Linked DNA regions of Homo sapiens. The protein of the gene in region 2 purifies or fractionates together with the protein of the main gene of each other region. This does not show direct contact. Each region holds a gene or a part of one and is shown on either strand. Other genes may lie near its edges.

Region 1 (3,824 bases), on a different chromosome or scaffold from region 2:
CACAGGAGAAAGATGATTGCTAGGTTTGAAGTTATTATCAAAGAAGTTAAATAAATCAGAACACGGACGTAAATTAATATCTGATGCAAATATAAGCCCCTACAACATGGGATGGGGGTTGGAGAGAAAAAAGGTCACTTATCCAATGGATTTGGGAATTAACCAAAACGGACACACAGCTATGAAGGTATATACAAAGTAAAGGACAATTTTCCTATAAATAGAATTTGTGGATATATGAAGGTGCATATATATTCAACCTTCTATCAAGTTCCAAAAAACTTTTTTAGAAAACTCTGCTGTTTTATGTTTGGATCCTTTATACAGTGTCTTAAATCAGAAGTGCAATTTGGATTTTTTTTGTGAAGCAGAAATAAGGCAGGGGACACACTCAGTCAGGGCAAAGTTGATGTAAACCTGAAACTGCTGTTGACTCAACTGCCCAACCGAAAGGTAAATGCCTGCAACTGCAGGCTGAGCAGGAGGAGCTCACCAGTTTTCGGACATCTTCGCTCCACACCTCTCCTTTTGCAGGCTGCTCTGCATATAATGAAATCCCCAACAGTCTGTTAAGCAAAATATTCAGGCCTTCCATGCATGCTCCAAGAGAGAAAAACGGGCAATATAGGCTGGGCTCAATATTATACCTAAGAGAAGGAAGAGAGGTTCAACAGCATCTTTGTTTATTTCAATTTCTGAAGGTAAATTCAATTAACTTTTCATTTAATACTTAAGATCACTGGAGCTAAAGAAGGATTCAAAACATAAAAGTGTATTTATATCATTTGAGGGGTTTTCAGACAGTTTTCTTCAGAATGACAGTCTGATTATTACTAGTGTTAGTTATAAGTCAGTAATTAAGGTAGATATATCATTCCCTAACCTTTGTCCCTTCCCTGTTATTTACTCTTTCACTAACCCAATTAAGCAGTCTCAACTGCTCACTGTATACATTCCTTATACATACTTACATGCAAAATATGATCAGTTTCAGTTATAATGGTAACTCTTACCTTATGAATTATATTCTAGAAACTTGTGACCTATATACATAAATATTAAATGAATAAAAATCCTGAGGCACATTAAGTGAATTTAAAGTTCTCATCCAGTAAAATATTCATTTATGAAAAAAATGCCTGCAATATAAATAATCAGATCTTATCTGTTTTATAGTTAGATATCTTAAATTAAAGACAACGTAACTAGTAAGGTGAATTATTCTTCACCCAAAAATAACTTTTTCTGTTCTATATATTCCAATATAAACCAAAGCAAATCCAAAATACGTGATTTGAATGTTTACATTTGAATCATTAAGTCAAGCCAAAATATATAGCCATAGCCAAAAATAATGGCTCTAGAATATTGTAGGTTCTCATTATATGTCTACTTTTTAGGATTACCAAAATACACATTTTTTTTTCAATTGGCTTTATTTGTGATTCTAGAACTGCACAACACTTCGTTCCATAAAATGAGTCCCCACAACAAATTTATATATAAAAATATAAAAACATAGTTACTAATAAATGAATGAGTTTAGTAAGTGAACATAAATTGCACAACAAATGAGACTTTGGCTATGGACATCCACAAATTTACACCTTAATTTCTGACTGATTTTTCTTTAAACAGAATCCTAGTGTTGAAAGAGACGTTCATGATCCAGTGCCCTCGCTCCCTGGTTCGTTCACTCAAGCATGCTGTCAGCAAACCTGCGGGGTGCTGGAAGAGAAGAATGAAGAGCCTTTGTGTCTAAGCAGCTGGCACTGAAAGAGGCAGAGAAGTGAACCAACTACACTGTGTCCTGGGCCTGGTGCAGTGGGCACACGGCTGGCGCTCAACAGACAGTGCTGAAGCATGAACGAATGAGCACTGCAAAATGGGAGGGCAAAGGAGAGCATGATGACTTTACTTGTGGAGTGCAGAGTAGCACCAGGGAAAGCTTCTCGGATAGGAATCAAGAAAGAATCGGCCGGGTGCTGTGGCTCACGCCTATAATCCCAGCACTTTGGGAGGCTGAGGTGGGTGGATCATGAGGTCAGGAGTTCAAGACCAGTTTGGCCAACATGGTGAAACCCCGTCTCTACTAAAAGTACAAAAATTAGCCGGGTGTGGTGGCGGGTGCCTGTAATCCCAGCTACTCGGGAGGCTGAGGCAGAGAATTGCTTGAACCCAGGAGGCGGAGGTTGAGTGAGCCACGATTGTGCCACTGCACTCCAGCCTGGGCGACAGAGCAAGACTCTCCATCTCAAAAAAAAAAAAAAAAAAAAAAGGAATCAGACTTTGCAAGGCAGGGCTGGGATGAGGAATGGAAAATGGGAATCATAATAGGAATTCTAGGCAGAAGCGACAGTATAACTAAAGTATGATGGCATAAAATAGCCTGGTAACTTCTAGAAAGGATGTGGTTAAAGATGAAGCAGTTACCAATGCAGGGATAAATGTAGAAAGAATGGGAGCGGAGTCTGGAAAAGGCAGGCAGGGGCCAGAAAACAGAGGGCCTGGTCCACTAAGCTGAGGAACTGGGACCATGCACCATAGGCCATGGCCTCTAAGCTTCCTCACCAATGCACACTAAAATAACTTTTGAGTATTCAACCTTCTATTAGTACACTCATAAAGTATATGCATGTGGTATTGTTTTATCACATTGCAAAAAGAAAAGCAGACATTTTTATAAGTTGAGATAAAGAAAAATAAATATACATAGAATTTCTAATATTTTATGACTACACTCTCAATGAATTGCTTACAGATGCCATTTGGGAGACAGCTTCTGTAGGCCATAGGGGAGCATCTGATGTTTTCTGGAATGCTGCACAGTGGACAGCATGGAGGGTGGAATGCAGGAGGCAGGGAGGGCTGACAGGAGGACAGACTTCCAGGCTTCAGAGGGTGAACTCTGACAGAGGGCAGTGGGGTCAGGGATGAATGTGTTTTTCCTTTGAGATGCAAACGTCTCAGGACTGTGTGAGTGATTGGATTTGGAGGGTGATGAGAAAGACAGAACAATCTAGAATAACACTCAGGTTTCTGGCTTGGACAAATAAGTGGATGGTAGAGTCACTGAATCAGCCGGCACAATGAACACAAAAAAGGAAGAGGGGAATCTGGGTGTGTTTGTGGGAGAAGAGAGGAGGGTGAGGTGCAATGATGGGAGGAGGATGGAGGGCTCACAGAAAATAAACTCCATTTTGGAGGAACCGACTGTGAAGTGCCCATGAGATACCAGACACTCAGGACCCAAAGCTAAGGAGAACAAGGAGACTTCACTGTACAGATATTAGAGCCATAGAGGGAGACAGGGCCATTAGGGAAGGGCGATGCGGGCAGAGAAGGTAAAGGGCAGACCCCTGAACTACCAGAGGGAGGGGTGGGAAGGAAGACACAGAACAGTTCAGAGGTACTGAAGAACTGAGAGAAAGGAGTGCATGGAAAGAGGGGAGAAAATAAACTATAAAAGGAAGTGGTCCAGGCTTGAGGTTTCCACTCCTGCACATGAGGAGGTTGAAAGTCACCACTCCATCCTAACAAGCAGGAAGCTGAACAAGCTGAAAATCAAGAATCTTCTTAGATTCAGCAGAGAATCAAGGCCACAGAGCAAACTGCTGCCCCCAAAACTGGAAAGAAAGGCAGGCAGCCATAGAGAATCACAGCTTACCAGAGCAGAAACCTCCCATAGAACCTACTACCAAGGCAAGAAAGTTTAAACTATAATTGGTTATAAAAAGCAATTCATTTTTTTGTTTCCAGACAATAAAAACACAAAAATAAAGGAGAATAAAAAGAAACTTTACATATTAAAATTCTACCCTTCT
Region 2 (3,824 bases):
AAGCAAATATCATTAGATGTAAACAGATAGACTCCAATACAACAATGTTCAGGACTTTAACACTCTACCCTCAGCATTAGACGGATCATCTAGACAGAAAATTAACAAAGAAACATTGGATTTATACTGCACTTTGGACCAAATGGACCTCGCAGATATTTACACAACATTTTATCCAACAGCTACAGAATACACATTCTTCTTCTCATCAGCACATGGCACATTCTCCAGAATAGACCATATGTTAGGGCACAAAACAAATTTCAACAAATTCTTAAAAATTGAAATCATACCAGGTATGTTCTTAGACCACAATGGAATAAAACTAGAAATCAGTAACAAGAGGAACTTTGGAAAACTGTACAAATACATGGAAATTAAACAACATGCTCCTGAATGACCAGTGAGTCAATGATGAAATTGAGAAGGAAAGCAAAAAATGTCTTGAAAATAATGAAAATGGAAGCATAATATATCAAAATCAATGAAATAAAGCAAACACAGTGTTAAGAAGGGAAGTTTATAGCCATAAACACCTATATCAAACAAGCAGAAAGATTTCAAATAAACAATCTAAGAATGCACCTCAAGGAACCAGAAAAGCAAGAACAAACTAAATCCAAAATTAGTAGAAAGAAAGAAATAATAAAGATCAGAGCAGAAATAAATGAAATTGAGGCAAAATTATAAAAGATCAACAAAACAAAATTTTTTGAGGAAAAACAAAATAGACAAATCTTTAGCTAGATTAAGAAAAAAAGAGAAGACCCAAATAAATAAAATCAGAAATGAAAAAGGAGACATTACAACTGTACCACAGAAATACAAAAGATCATTAAAGACTCTTATGAACAACTATATGCCAACAAATTGGAAAACATAGAGGAAATGGATAAATTCCTGGACACACATAACCTACCAAGATAGAAAACCTGAATAGACCAATAATATGTAATGAGATTGAATCAGTAATAAAAAAAGCCCAGAATTGGATGGTTTTACTGCTGAATTCTACCATAAGAACTAACACTAAATCTTTTTTTTTTTTTTTTGAGAGGGAGTCTCACTCTTGTCACCTAGGCTGGAGTGCAATGGTGTGATCTCAGTTCACTGCAACCTCCACCTCCCAGATTAAAGTGATTCTCCTCCCTTAGCCTCCCTAGTAGCTGGGATTACAGGCATGCACCACCATGCCCGGCTAATTTTTGTATTTTTAGTAGAGACACCACACTTCCTAACTTCAAATCATACTACAGAGCTATAGTAACCAAAACAGCATGGTATTGGCATAAAAACAGATGCATAGACCAATGAAACAGAATAGATAACCCAGAACTAAACCCACACATTTACATTCAACAGATTTTCAACAAAGGTGCCAAGAACATACACTGAGGAAAGGATATCCTCTTCAGTACATGGTCCGAGGAAAAGTGGTAATCATATGTGGTAGACTAAGACTAGAGCCCTCTCTCTCACCATATACAAAAATCAACTCGAACTGGATTATAGACTTAAATGTAAGACTCAAAACTATAAAACAACCGAAGAAAATATAGTGTAAATGCTTCAAGTCATTGATCAAGGCAAATGTTTTATTTTTTATTTTAATTTTAATTTTTAAAATTTTTTAAATTTTATAATAAATTTAATAAAATTGGGCAGATCCTGAGCCAGAGTAGGCTCTGAGACTCCCCTAGGCAAATATTTTAGGGATAAGGATATGAAAACACAGGCAACAAAACCAAAAACAGACAAATGGGACTATACAAAGCTAAAAAGCTTCTGGACAGTAAAGGAAGCAATCAACAGAGAGAAGAGACAAGATGTAGAATGGGAGAAAATATTTGTGAACTATTCACCTGACAAGGAATTAATATCCAGAATATACAGGGAATGCAAATAACCCAACAGCAAAACAAAACAAAACAAAACAAATAATTCAATTAAAAAATGGACATAGAATCTGAATAGACATTTCTCAAAAGACATACTAATTGGCAGCAAGTATATGAAAAAATGCTCAACATCATTAATCATCAGGATAATTCAAATCAAAACCATGATGAGATATGATCTTACCCCAGTTAGAATGGCTATTGTCAAAAAGACAAAAGATAACAAATGCTTGAGAGGATGTGGAGAAAAGGGAACTCTGAAACACTATTGGTGAGAATATAAATTAGTACAGCCATTGCAGAAAACAATATAAGGGCCTCTCAAAAAACTAAAAATAAAACTACCATATGATTTAGCAGTCTCACCACTGGGTATTTTTTCAAAGGAAAGGAAATCAGTCTATTGAAGAGATATCTGCACTGCCATGTTTATTGCAGCACTGTACATAATAGCCAAGATATGGAATCAACCTAAATGTCTATCAAGAGATGAATGGATAAAGAAAATGTGGTATATATACACAGTGCAATACTATTCAGCCATAAAAAAGAATGAAATTCTGTTATTTGTGGCAACATGTATGAACTTGGAGGACATTATGTTAAGTGAAATAAGTCAGACACGGAAAGATAAATGCCACATGTTCTTACTCATATGTGGGAGCTTAAAAAAATGAGCTTCACTGAACTTCAGCCTGGGCAACAAAGTAAGACCCTGTCTCTTAAAAAAAAAAAAAAAAAAAAAAAAAAGGAGCTCGGCCTGGCGTGGTGGGTGGCTCACGCCTGTAATCCCAGTGCTTTGGGAGGCCAAGGTGGGCGGATCACTTGAGACCAGGAGTTCAAGGTCAGCCTGGCCAACATGGCAAAACCCTGTCTCTACTAAAAATACAAAAATTAGCCGGCATGGTGGCAGGTGCCTGTAGTCCCGGCTACTCGGGAGGCTGAGGCACAAGAATTGCTTGAACTCATGAGGCGGAGGTTGCAGTGGGCTGAGATCACACCACCGCACTCCAGCCTGAAAAGAGCTCATAGAAGTAGGGAGTGGAATTGTGGCTATTAGAGGCTAGGAACGGTAGTGGGGAGAGGAGCATAGAAAGAGGTTGGTTAATGGATGCAAAATTATAGCTAGATGGATGGAATAAGTTCTAGTGTTCTATAGCACTGTAGAGTGAAAACAGTTAAGAATAATATATTGAGTATGTTCAAAAAGCTAGGAGAGAGGATTTTGAATGCTCCCAGCACAAAGAAATGATGCATGTTTGGGATGATGGGTAGCCTAATTACCCTCATTTGATCACTACACATTTTATACATGTATCAAAAATATCTTTGTACCCCATAACTATGTATAGTTATTACATAACTAAACATAACAGGAAAAATAATAACTTTGGGGTCCTTATTTCTAGACGTTGGAAGCCATGTCATTTCTTTTGGCCCAAATCATTTCCCATTTAGCCTGATCATTTTTCTTTCCAATAAGTGAGAATTCTTGCATCCTTTACATTTTCCCCAAAGATTTATCTGTGCCTCCTTTTCTACCATTTCTGACTCTTGGAATTACTTTTCACTCTTCTCCTTTTTTTTTTTTAAGTCAACCTAGAATTCTACATTTATGTAATACAGGGTCTCTCAACTAACCATGGAACTATTGACATTTCGGGTCAAATAATTCTTTGTTCTGGAGGCTGCCCTGTGCATTATGGGATATTTAGCAGAATCCCTGGCTTTTACCTGTTAGATGCCAGTAGCAACTGCCTCTGCCCCTATCATGGCAACAAAAATATTTCTAGACATTAGAGATGTTACCTAGGGGTAAAATCACTCCCAGTTGAGAAATTGTGGTCTGACTGGCCCTCCCCCCATACCTTTTCCTTATCAGTCCATTGGTCCAGGACATCTTTAGCAAAGTTGAAATACTCTGGA

Evidence for each region.
Region 1: the proteins of ACSM3 (region 2) and MIPEP purify together in Homo sapiens (affinity purification with mass spectrometry; one large-scale study listed by BioGRID and IntAct). This does not show direct contact.

Annotation. Positions count from the first base shown.
Region 1 is NC_000013.11:23,840,842-23,844,665, forward strand, and holds part of MIPEP (mitochondrial intermediate peptidase), read right to left. Parts: intron 648-3,824; coding exon 494-647; intron 1-493. UniProt on the Homo sapiens protein: Cleaves proteins, imported into the mitochondrion, to their mature size.
Region 2 is NC_000016.10:20,770,196-20,774,019, reverse strand, and holds part of ACSM3 (acyl-coenzyme A synthetase ACSM3, mitochondrial), read right to left. Parts: coding exon 3,767-3,824; intron 1-3,766. UniProt on the Homo sapiens protein: Catalyzes the activation of fatty acids by CoA to produce an acyl-CoA, the first step in fatty acid metabolism. Capable of activating medium-chain fatty acids with a preference for isobutyrate among fatty acids with 2-6 carbon atoms.